4 separate regions of the Homo sapiens genome follow, and all the other regions are reported to be linked to region 4. The links are microRNA targets in miRTarBase. Many come from high-throughput screens and were not tested one by one. Region 4 holds a microRNA gene; each other region holds the end of a gene's coding sequence. Distances are from middle to middle.

Region 1 (3,083 bases), not on the chromosome of region 4:
TTCCGACATTATTTGTCTAGACAGTCATCATCAAAAACAGTGATGCTCGTGCAACCACTAGTGTCATATGAGAGGGGGGGAAGAAGTTAAAACACATCTAAAAGTAAATTTAATAGTTTTAAGTTAAAACTATAAACAAATTTTTAAGTTAAAACTGTGTATTGAAAATTGTCTGGATATTAGCATATTTACTGGCTGTCATACTCATACCTGCTGGGGTATGGCTATTTTTCTTTTTAAGATTTGGAGTCCTGAAGCCACAACAGCAGAGCTGATCAGGAAGAGGGAACTACGGCGAGAGAGGTTTACACATGAGGTGGACTTCGACGATTTTATGATGCCTTTTCAGAAGAACATCACAGAGAAAGCTCGAGCACTGGAAGCTGCCTTGAAGACCTAAGTCATAGCAGTTATTTCTTGGGGTAAATGCTTTGAGGCCCAGGGACCAATCTTTGGAGAAAGTAGATATTTCCATCAAAGCCAAAGCAATCCATACACCAAGAACTTGTTACCAAGAATTTCTTTTTGCTTTAACAACTATAAATATTCTTAGCTGTCTAGAGAAAAGATGTATGTTATTTTGAAATGAATGGTATGTCATTCTGGATAAATCCCCAAGCCCCTTTATGAATGTAGTGAAATACATGGCATGTGGGTTATAAACGTTGCTGTCAAAAGATTTACCAGGTCTACACCATTATGCTTATTATTTTTTTAATTATCCTTTTTATTTATTAAATAGAGACAGAGTCTCACTATATTGCCCCAGCTGGTCTCGAACTCTTGAGCTCAGGCAGTCCTCCCAACTTGGCCGTCGAAAGTGCTGGGATTATAGGCATGAGCTACTGTGCCCAGCCTGCTTATTGAAGATACATTTCTAGTGGAAATTGATGAAACAATTTAGGTTTTGGAAAAAGAAGTAATATTTAATCTTTTAAGGAAGGAGTTTATTTCTCACATGCCATTATAAACTATGTGTATTAGATACCTTGGGTTGAATACACTTTTAACAGCCCTAGATCGATAGCCCTAGCCCTAGATAGATAGCCCTAGCCCTAGATAGATAGCTATTAGGTTGGTGCAAAAGTAATTGTGGTTTTTGCCATAACCTTTAATTGCAGCAAAAACCGCAATTACTTTTGCTCCAACCTGACAGCTAGGTATCTAGCTAGCTAGAAAGGCAGATAGACAGATATATAGATGATAGATAGATAGATGATAGATAGATAGATAGATGATAGATAGATAGATAGATAGATAGATAGATAGATAGATAGAGATTTATTGCAAATAATTGGTTTACATAATTTTGGGCCCCAGATGGTTAAGTGCTAAATTTGTAGGGTAGGCTATCAGGAAGTGCAGGCTGGAAACATGCAGGAGCTGTCCCTGAAGTCCACAAGTGGAATTTCTTCTTCATCATGGAAACCTCAGTTTTGTTCATACACCTAAATACTTCAGTATGTCTTTCCTAAAATAAAAGGCATCCATTTACCTAACCAGATTACGATTGTGAAAATTTCAACTGTTGTTAAAGCGACTGATGGGATCAGTTTCACCTAGATTATCTAAAGCAGTCTCCTTTACATAAAGTCAATGAATTGTAAATATTGGTTGCATGTACACAATTCCTTCACCACAACACCTAAGATTAGTATTTGATTGAGTTACTGGGTGCTACAACCTAGCCAAGTTGAGTCATAAAACTGACCATCTCTGGAGGTGTACTCTGCAGTAAAAAGCTAGCTGAGGCATTATTCACACCAAGAAATGCAGTGGGTACCGAACAGGAGCTCCAAAAATATCCAACGTCTCATTGACAGAAAGAAGCCACTTTAGAATCTGCCTTACCAGAAGGCACCAATTGCAGATTACAGCTCTGTCAGTCACGTATGGATTAAACCCCTTTCCTCTAACCTCCTCCCTCTCTTTCCAACCTTGGAGGGACCTTCCACAGGAGCCAGTTAGGGAGGAGAAGGGAAGAGAGAGAATGAAGCAGGTAACCAGGCCCACCCCTCTGGAGGAGACAGACCTGAACAGGGGTTGCTTACAAGCATTGCATTTGGATCCCAAGATTTGCTATTACAACTAAATTTTGTCTGTTTTGTAAGGTTTTGGTTGGTTTTTTTGTTCTCTCTTTTCTTTTTGTTTTGACATAATTTCATATTTATGGAAAAGTTGCAATAATTTGACAAAGAATTCTTATATGCCCTTTACCCAGATTACCTAAATGTTAACCACTTACCACATTTGCTCTATCTCTTTCTCCCTCTACATATATGCATATGTATGTTTAATTTTTGTCCCCGAACTATCTGTGTGTCCGTTGAAGACATGATGAAGACATGATGTTCTTCACATGATGTTTTCATATTTGTGTGTCAGTTGAAGACATGATGTTTTAAATATTTCATTGTGTATTTCCTAAAATCACGATGTTCTTTTGCATAACAATATTACCATTGGCAAACTAAGGAAATTAACACTTAAGTGAACTATTTAATCTATAGACCTTATTCAGATTTTGCTATTTATCCCAATAATTTCCTTTGTACTCCCAGGTCATGAAATACATTCGCTTGCCCCATCTCTTTAGTCTCTTTTAGTTTAGAACAACCTGTATTTCTTGTTTGTTTGTTTGTTTGTTTGTTTATGACAGTATATAAGAAGAACACAAGCCACTTTTATCTTGTAAAATGTCTCTCAACTTTGGTTTGTCTTAAATGTCTTCAAGAATAGATTCAGGTGATGCTTTTGGGGCAGCAGTGCTACAGATGTCATTGCACCCTTCTCAGTACATCATATCAGGAGGCACATGATGTTGATACCTGATATAAACTTTAACTGCATTTGCAGTTGAGAGAAATGTAAATAAAAGTAAAGCTGCAGTAATAAATCATAACTGCATAAAATTAACTGTAGTACATACTGTACAACTGTAATAATTTCATAGCCACCTCCTGTTGCTATTGTGTTGAGTTCAATTGTTGTCTTTTCTCAAGCTTACTTTATTGCACAAATACAGTATTTATAACATACAAAATACGTGTTAATTGATTATGCTATGGGTAAGGCTTTTGGTC
Region 2 (3,083 bases), 91 Mb from region 4:
AACTGTTGAGTCGTCAGGTAAAGGGTTCTACTAGAAGCAATCTTACATTTTTTTGGAGGAGAGTGGTTGCATTGGTTGCATTGTTTTAAGTGGTTTTTCTTTTCCTTCCTTGGTTAGACCAGTTCTTGGAGTTATATCCTTTCTTAGGTGACTAGGCCTGCTGCACAATAATAGGTTAATTAAAGTCAGAAGAAGGTCAGCAAAGATGGATTGGGTGAGATTGGGGCCCTTTTCTTAGAAGGGCAGAGATACTAAGCACTGATTGTGGTTGACAATTTGTTCTAAATTTTAAGATATTTTTTGCTGGTGGTTGTGAAAGGGTCAGCTGTCCATCCTTTGAAACTTAAAACTTTTAAACTGTAAGGGTGAGGGGATTGTCTCCCATTTTATACAATAAGTCAAGTAATCAGCTCATTCTGAATGCCTGCCATTGTATGCATTCACTACATATTTGGTAAATTATTTGATAAATGATTGCTCAGGGTGAATTTTTCACACTTGGGAATTAAGCTACCCTTAATTTTTTGAGATTGTTTAAAATTAGGTACTGTTCTGATTATTAGTATGTAACCACTACCGTTCTGGTTCTAACACTTGTTTTATTTTAGACCAGCAGAGTGGTTATGGGAAGGTATCCAGGCGAGGTGGTCATCAAAATAGCTACAAACCATACTAAATTATTCCATTTGCAACTTATCCCCAACAGGTATGTTCTAAAAATAGTTTTTTTTTGTCATTTACAATAGTAGTTTTTATAATCTATATTGTTCATAAAACAATGCTTAATTTAAGAGTTTCACAGCACCCAGAAGTGCTTACCATATTATAACATAGTGACTTTCAAAGATATGTAACACAGGTGCTCTTAAGCTTTTGCCTTTTTGTCCTATTATTAACAAGTCAGTAAAGTTAACAGGTAAAGTACTGCTAATGGGTACAAATTAAGGAATTGCAGCAAAAAAGTATTGCCTACTAACTCTGACATTATACCTTGTTTGTACCCGCCAGCGGGAACTTCATTGCAGGCCCTGTGTCGCGCTGACTTCACGATTCTCACAGGCCCGCTCAATGCGGACAGGGTACGAGATGCTCACGCTCTCGAATGCTGCCGTTTGGTATGGTCTCTTCCAACATCCTGTATCAGCATTATAAAATAAAATGGATACTTCAAGCTTTGCCTTCACTTATTTCTTTGCTTTTTAAAAACTATTTGTAATGTAATTTTAATGCATTTTTTACAGGCCCAGTAATGGTTAAATACGTCAGCTTACTGAATAATTTTAACTATTTATTCTTCTAAGGATACAGCTTGTCTCTGGATTTTCCAGTCTTAATTTTATATTTTATTAATCTATTTTAATGCTTGCTTTTCCCATTTATAGACGTTGTAGCAGTAATTGCAAGAAGTTCTTGAGCTGAATTCCTGTTGTGACAACTTCCTATAATTACAGTAGATAACTTTTTCTTTTAGTCGTATATAACTTTTCTATAACTTGTGATGGACAAGAGATATGCTTATCCAATAAAATAAGCTTAAATATTAGATGCTCTTGGGTCAAAATGTCCTTTTACCAAATTGACCTTTTTATGAGTTCTTTGGGTAAATACTTTAAAGCTTTTTATATTTTAAAGAATACTTGTAAAAGCATATCACATCTTAAACCAGTGGTGCACATGTGGATTTACAGCTCATGGACTCTACTGTTCAGCTTTAATTTATAAAACATATCACACATTTAATGTTATACAGTATTTACATATAGTGGAACATAGGGATAACTCAGTTTTATGTAAATTTTTGTTAAGTGTTGTAGCCTGCCCAGAGTGACTTCTATTTTTTCTTCTTTGTCTCCAGGTGGTGAAGCAGTATTTTCCAATTTGAAGATTCATTTGAAGGTGGCTCCTGCCACCTGCTAATAGCAGTTCAAACTAAATTTTTTGTATCAAGTCCCTGAATGGAAGTATGACGTTGGGTCCCTCTGAAGTTTAATTCTGAGTTCTCATTAAAAGAAATTTGCTTTCATTGTTTTATTTCTTAATTGCTATGCTTCAGAATCAATTTGTGTTTTATGCCCTTTCCCCCAGTATTGTAGAGCAAGTCTTGTGTTAAAAGCCCAGTGTGACAGTGTCATGATGTAGTAGTGTCTTACTGGTTTTTTAATAAATCCTTTTGTATAAAAATGTATTGGCTCTTTTATCATCAGAATAGGAAAAATTGTCATGGATTCAAGTTATTAAAAGCATAAGTTTGGAAGACAGGCTTGCCGAAATTGAGGACATGATTAAAATTGCAGTGAAGTTTGAAATGTTTTTAGCAAAATCTAATTTTTGCCATAATGTGTCCTCCCTGTCCAAATTGGGAATGACTTAATGTCAATTTGTTTGTTGGTTGTTTTAATAATACTTCCTTATGTAGCCATTAAGATTTATATGAATATTTTCCCAAATGCCCAGTTTTTGCTTAATATGTATTGTGCTTTTTAGAACAAATCTGGATAAATGTGCAAAAGTACCCCTTTGCACAGATAGTTAATGTTTTATGCTTCCATTAAATAAAAAGGACTTAAAATCTGTTAATTATAATAGAAATGCGGCTAGTTCAGAGAGATTTTTAGAGCTGTGGTGGACTTCATAGATGAATTCAAGTGTTGAGGGAGGATTAAAGAAATATATACCGTGTTTATGTGTGTGTGCTTATTTGTTTGAATGATTTTATTTTCCATTTCTCAAAGGTTTTATTTTTTTGGTTAGGGCCTTAAAATTTCAGGACTGTGATTATTAGTATGTGTGCCTAAGGAACTTTTTGAGTCACTCTTAAGAAAGTGAAACTGAAGAGTCTAAGTGATAACTATAGGATTAAGTCAGAATTGTTTTTCCTGTCATTTGTTGGAAGCTTCTTGAGTTCTGTTATTAGCATTCAGGGAATTGATACCCATCAACTTGAATGGAAAATCGTTTGTAGGTATTACTTAAGTGAATGTTAAGAGTTCCACCCTGAGTGGTAATCTAAGGCTGTGCAGTCAGTTACTTCAGACTGCTCAGAATAGTTCATTAGAAAGGTAACAAATGAGAAATGTATTATT
Region 3 (3,068 bases), not on the chromosome of region 4:
GACTTCCTGGAGTGCCAGAACTCGCCAGCGCGCATCACGCACTACCAGCTCAACTTCCAGACGGGCCTCCTGGTGCCTGCGCATATCTTCCGCATTGGCCCCGCGCCAGCCTTCACGGGGGACACCATCGCCCTGAACATCATCAAGGGCAATGAGGAGGGCTACTTTGGCACGCGCAGGCTCAATGCCTACACGGGTGTGGTCTACCTGCAGCGGGCCGTGCTGGAGCCCCGGGACTTTGCCCTGGACGTGGAGATGAAGCTCTGGAGGCAGGGCTCCGTCACCACCTTCCTGGCCAAGATGCACATCTTCTTCACCACCTTTGCCCTGTGAGGTGCCAGCACGGGCCACCTGCGGGTGTGGCGCAGCCCAGGGCTCACACTGCGTGGGAGGGACTGGGTCACTATTGTGGTTTTTACTATAACTTTGTAAATTAACTTAATTTTGCTGACTTGACTCCTGTGGCTTCTGGACCCCTCCTCTGCCCCGCAGGAGGAAGTTCCACGGCAGGTGGTGCGTTCCCACGCAGGCACCAAGTGGAAGCTTGCACGGTGGGCCACGGCCGTGGCGGGTGCCCTGTGGGTGAGGCTGGGTGATGACCTGAGGACCAGAGACACGCGACCATGTTGGGGCTCTTGGACTCCTCTGGATGACCCGTCCCCAAAGTTGACATTCCATTTCATGTTCCACTGTGATTAATTCTTTTCTTTTTTAAAAAATCATTTTAAAGTTTTTTGTTTAACTATAAAGTAGTACATGTACATTATATAAAAAAAAGTTCAACTAGTATGAAAGGGTTATAAAGTAACAGAGGAAAACGCCTCTTGGTCCCTTTACTTTTGTAAAGTGTTCAGAGTTTGACAACGTTGTCCAGATGTCACAGGGCTCTATGGCCTGGCCAGCATGTCAATTCATTGATGAAGACCTTGATGTCCTTCTCAACGAGCCCCGAACCTGAAGTTCACTTTGGGATGAGGGCACCCCAGTGTGATCAGTCACTGACCAGGCTCTTTATTCTGCTTTTACCACTTCAGCTTTCCCTCCTCCTTCCTCCTCCCTCCTCCCTCCTCTGCCTTCCCCCCATGAAGACCTCCACTGATGGCCTGTCACTTGGATGTTGTCCAGAACTTGTCCTGGCCCCTGTTGCTGAGCTGTCAGGTCAGGCAGTAGACCTGGGCAGGAGCCTGAAGGAACCTGGGAAACTGAGGCCCTGAGAGCGGAAGCGATGTGCCCCCAGCCCACAGCGAGCATCAGAGCAGGTGTCGGGACCCAGCTCTGATGACCCTGCTCGGGCTCCGTGGGTCTAGAGTTAAATATAGGGGGCGGCAGCCAGCACTTTTAAAATGACGTAGAATAGAGCAGATGAGATATGAGTGCTTCACACCCTGTAAAGAGAAGAACTGCTTCACCAAACCACAGTACATGGGGCGTGTGCACCTATGCGTGGGCACGCTAGCTCTGGCTTTTGGTAGAAAGTGTTTCTCACTGTGGGTGGAGGGAAGCAGGCCTGTCGGGGCGCGCTGGGCAGCACATGCCCTGTGTGAAGGGGGCGCCTACACTTGGCTCCAGCAAGGCCGCCTTCTGGGCGCGTGGCCCGGGATGGCCAGATGTTCTCATTCCTCAACACAAACTCTCTCAGTGTTAAGAGGTGGCGACTTGCTCAGGCTTCTAAAGGACAGGTGTTTGGGAGCCTCTTGCCGGAAGCCTGCGGTGGGGGCCCTCTGTCCCTGCTCCTCGCCGGCCCCCATCCCCAAGGGTGCAGCAGAAGCCAGGTCTTCCCTGTCCCTGTCCGGGCTGTCTCTGTTCCTTCTATTTTGCTGATTTTCAGAAAAACTAGATCCGGCACCTTTGTGGTGCACAGTCCCCACCAGCGGGAACCAGTAGGTGACAGGCTCCATTCAACAGGACAGGCAGGTTAGGGACACCCCTGGCTGGCAGCAGCCGTTCCTGCTCCTACCCAGCCCCGGTTACTCCTTCTGGGACCTCAGGCAAGTGACTTCGCCTCCCCTCACTGGTCTCCCCTGTGAACAGGGGCTCCAGCTGTTCTTCCTGCACAGGCCATCGAGCCAGTAAAATGAACTTGGCACCCAGCGCATCCATACGGAGGGTCTTGGAGAACAACTTCTCTCCGGACCTTAGAGTTTCTAAGGTGATTCTAGAATTCCATGCCGGCAAGTTTGGCAAACTGCAGCTTCAGGGAATAGCCCCTACAAGACTACCCTCACTGCAGACCAAGAACTGCACACCAGAAACAAGCTCAGGCATCCCTAGGACCACCCTCACGTCTGAGCAATGGGCTACAGGTTTGGGGGTCCTTACATCCACCCTCAGGCTCATTAATTCACCTGCATGACTCAGACAGTTTATGGTGAAAGGAAGCAGGTTAAAGTCATTGATGAATTCTAGAGCAGAGTCCAGGAGAGCCCAGTCACGGAGCTCCCGTGTCCTCAGGATGCAGCACAACAGAATAGAGCTGAACAGGGCACCTTTGGGGTCCAGGTGTGTCTGGGAGCTTGACCACCTGGCTGTCAGCGTGGCTGGCCCTAAGTCTCCAGTCCCTCGCAGAGGTCAGAACTGAGGCAGCAAAGCCCCTGAAAACGCTGGTACTCCAGTGCCAGCCAGGACGTTCTGGGGGCCGAGAGCTCACCCTGCAGGCCACCCCCGGCCCCGGCCCCAGCGTTCTCGCAGTGGAATAGTCACGTTTGTCTGGGCAGCTCCTTCAGCGTTGCCTGCTTCCTCCCTTGTGGCAGGGCTGCCCGTGCCTATGAAGCATGTAAAGAACCACCGTGTGCAGGCGTTAGCCCGGGGTTGGCTCCACCTAGCTCTTCCGCAGGTGTCATTCTCCATCGTTGCTACATCCTGAGGAGGCTGGAACTCAGGGTTTCAATACATTTGCCATCACCATCAACGTTATAACCTTATCAACCGTGCCAGGTAGGACCATATTGCAGTCTGGTGGATGTCACCTAAAAAGGAAGACCGGAGTCCCACTCAGTCATAGCAGTTTATCTAGTCCATCACCACATCAGATCAGCAGATGTCCCCCAGGGTGAGGCCACTCAGGTTTG
Region 4 (3,083 bases):
TAATAAAATCCTGCCATTTTCGGCAACATGGATGAGCATGGGGGACATTATGTTAAAAATAAGCCAGGCACCGAAAGACAAGTATTGCATGTTCTCACTCACGTGGAAGCTAAAAAATTTGATCTCATGGAGGTAGAGAGTATAATGACGGCTACCTGAGGCTGGGAAGGGTGTGTGTGTGTGTGTGTGTGTGTGTGTGTGTGTGTGTGTGTGTGTGTGTGTGTGTGTGGAGGGCTGGGATGTGGGATAAAGAGGGGTTGGCTAATGGCTATAAACATACAGTTAGCTGGAAGGAATAAGTTCTAATGGTCAATAGGACAGCAGGTGACCATAGTTAACAACAATGTATTGTGTATTTCAAAAGGGCTAGAAAAGAATATTTGGGATGTTCCCAACACAAAGAAATGATAAATGTTTGAGGTGGTGCATATCCTAAATACCCTGCTTTGATCATTACCCATTATATGCATGTATCCATATATCACATGTATCCCATAAATAGGTACTATTATCATATATTAATTTTTAAAAGCCACCTTAGTATGGCCTAGAAGTAGAGGATCAGTGTTGAGGGTATGGGCAAAATTTACCATTGTACCATGCCTGTCACTTAGATCACCCTCCAGCCTGGCCCCTGAAACGCGTACCTGAATGCTAGGGAGATACACTGAAAGAGCATTCCATTAAAATGCCTGTCAAACTGAAGGATGGCAAATTTCTGTACTTGAGGGTTTGTGGACACCCATAGGCAGATTACCAGCCAGTGGCTTCTGCAGCGCCAGGAAACCATGCCTGGGCACAGACCAGCAAATGTCATCAGCAATGGCCATTCCTTAGAATAGGCACAGCAGGGGGACCAGCTTCACAGGACCAGGGGCCCCTTTGCAGCAGAGTCTTCACCTCAGCAAGCAGAGCTCACAGAAAATGAGGGGTGCTGCATGGTATCCGAGAGTGCCAAGTTCATAAATACACATGAGGTTCACTTTGGGAATCCCATACAGAGCTGAAAGAGTGATGAGCATGATATTGAGCATTTAGGGAGCTTTGGTTTCCTCTTCTAGCAATTGTGGATAATAATACTTGGCTTGTAAAGTTATTGTGGGTAACAAATGTGCTAAAGGACATAAAAGGCATATCACACATGAGCTCCACCGGTTGGAGGTCACAGTTGTTGGAGGCCACCTTCATCCCTTGTGTGGCATAGAGAAGCTTCAGAAGCTCTTTTTTCTGTATAGGCCTCTCATCATGCCAGGTGTGTGGTATTCAGCCTTATCTTTAAAATATGGTACCCTCTTCATTGTATTTCATCCTGCCGTCTTACTACAAAAGAGGAGGAGTCCTAAAGGAAGTTAGTAAATACAAAGAAGTTCTTAAGGTCAACCTAAGATAAAGAAATGCTTGCTTGTAAGTGCTGGGTGATTGAATCTATAATTTGCGTCAAGAGAAGTGAAGAAAAATGTTAGGGTGGTGCAAAAGTGATCGTGGTTTTTGCAATTTTTTAATGACAAAAACCACAATTACTTTTGCACCAACCTAACCTTGTTTTAGGCATGTATCTATTTAAAGACACTTTATTTTACCTATAACGTTGATGGGTTTACATTGAACTCAGGGCCAATAGCACTGTAACTCGCACCCAAACAAAGCTTGTCTCACGTGGATTTTCTGCACAGGACACAGCACAGCATCTTTGTGCTTAGGATACCAGGTAGCACACTGACATTATTCTCGGGAGGCTGTTTTAAACAGCAAAATTACCAACTAAAAGCACAAAAATGAGAAAATCTGTGGCACCAAACAAACTGCAAATAGGACACTTGTTTTCTCTCTCGTTTTTTTTTTTTTTTTTTTTTTTTTTTGAGATGGAGTCTCGCTCTGTAGCCCAGGCGTGGCGCCATCTTGGCTCACAGCAAGCTCTGCCTCCCAGGTTCACGCCATTCTCCTGCCTCAGCCTCCCGAGTAGCTGGGACTACAGGCGTCCACCACCACGCCCAGCTAATTTTTTTTTTTTTTTGTATTTTTAGTAGAGATGGGGTTTCACCGTGTTAGCCAGGATGGTCTCAATCTCCTGACCTCTTGATCCGCCCTTCTTGGCCTCCCAAAGTGCTGGGATTACAGGCGTGAGCCACCGCACCCGGACACTTGTTTACTCTATGAGCAGAAACAAGAAACAGAACATCCTCGTGTGCATGCCCATCAGGCATCTCCAATTGCAATCCACATTTGTGGACGTAGAATCCACAAATAATAAGGAGCCACTGAATTTTTGTATATTTAGTATGGGGCTCAGGTTAATCACAGAAATATTTACTATATAGTTAGTGGGCAAAATGCCCAGTACCCCATTATAATAAACCCAAATCTCAGTAACAGTGAAGATGTTTCTCAGAGGGGCATGGCTCCTCTGATGTTTGTCAGATAAGCATGTCTTATTATAGGGGCACTCAGACAACAGAGGCACAGAACAAAACAAAATATTTTTTGTCTGTTAATTTATTTCAAAAATGAAATCTGATAATGGCTTTTAGAAATGTGAAGACCAAAAAGCATCAAATTTTGTTTTTCCATTTAAGGAATAGAAATAAAGTGGCCGAGTTATTATTATATGTTCCGCCCATAATTCATCTTTCCTTGCTCCTTCCCACCCCTCCCCACTTTATCTTCCACCTCCTTTTATAGATACCTAACTGCTAAAATGGGCTTGGGAAGGCAGCTGGAATCATGCCAAGGTGTACCCAACAGAAGCTGCTGCAGTTAGTGACATGAGCTATGGAACACAGGAGGTCTTTTGCACTGATTGGAATATTTATTAGATTTAGTGCTGAAATAGTCTCTGCTGATAAGCAGACCTAATCTGAATTTCAAAGGTCCTTATGACCACGTAAATGTGATAGTATCATATCCTCAGGCCCCAAGTGCATCACCTTTCCTAAATGGTTGGATGCTGTATTGAATCTATTTAATATCCTGGTAACTAGCTTTGACTTTTTTCAGGAATACTTAATAATTTTAGATTTAATCTTCCCTCCTCCTCCTCCTCCTCAACAGAAGTAATTTAAATTCTTTCCAAGTAGTCATTGCAC

The links. Region 4 holds the annotated microRNA hsa-miR-548aa (AAAAACCACAAUUACUUUUGCACCA, at 1,507-1,531, shown strand). A microRNA usually pairs through its seed, bases 2 to 8, with sites in the 3' UTR of a target mRNA and lowers its output. Matches are read on the target gene's strand: a 7mer-m8 pairs with bases 2 to 8, a 7mer-A1 pairs with bases 2 to 7 and ends in A, and an 8mer does both.
Region 1: miRTarBase lists ANKEF1 as a target of hsa-miR-548aa. Seed matches in the 3' UTR shown: 7mer-m8 at 1,094-1,100 and 7mer-m8 at 2,120-2,126.
Region 2: miRTarBase lists HNRNPD as a target of hsa-miR-548aa. Seed matches in the 3' UTR shown: 7mer-m8 at 2,151-2,157 and 7mer-A1 at 2,732-2,738.
Region 3: miRTarBase lists FBLN2 as a target of hsa-miR-548aa. Seed matches in the 3' UTR shown: 7mer-m8 at 410-416.

What each region holds. Positions count from the first base shown.
Region 1 is chr20:10,055,261-10,058,343 of GRCh38, forward strand. ANKEF1 (ankyrin repeat and EF-hand domain containing 1) reads left to right here. Exons shown (of 11, transcript NM_022096.6): 11 at 242-3,043. The coding sequence ends at 400. The region is part of intron 3 of SNAP25-AS1 (SNAP25 antisense RNA 1); the gene reads right to left. Among named protein-coding and RNA genes, the nearest start is that of ANKEF1, 22 kb to the left of the region's middle.
Region 2 is chr4:82,352,927-82,356,009 of GRCh38, reverse strand. HNRNPD (heterogeneous nuclear ribonucleoprotein D) reads left to right here. Exons shown (of 9, transcript NM_031370.3): 8 at 609-706; 9 at 1,856-3,083. The coding sequence ends at 676. Among named protein-coding and RNA genes, the nearest start is that of HNRNPD, 20 kb to the left of the region's middle.
Region 3 is chr3:13,637,587-13,640,654 of GRCh38, forward strand. FBLN2 (fibulin 2) reads left to right here. Exons shown (of 18, transcript NM_001004019.2): 18 at 1-818. The coding sequence ends at 333. Among named protein-coding and RNA genes, the nearest start is that of LINC00620, 12 kb to the right of the region's middle.
Region 4 is chr4:173,266,699-173,269,781 of GRCh38, forward strand. MIR548T (microRNA 548t) reads left to right here and starts at 1,462; the gene lies at 1,462-1,535. The region is part of intron 2 of GALNT7 (polypeptide N-acetylgalactosaminyltransferase 7); the gene reads left to right. LOC124900812 (a long non-coding RNA gene) reads right to left here. Exons shown (of 3, transcript XR_007058367.1): 2 at 1-3,083.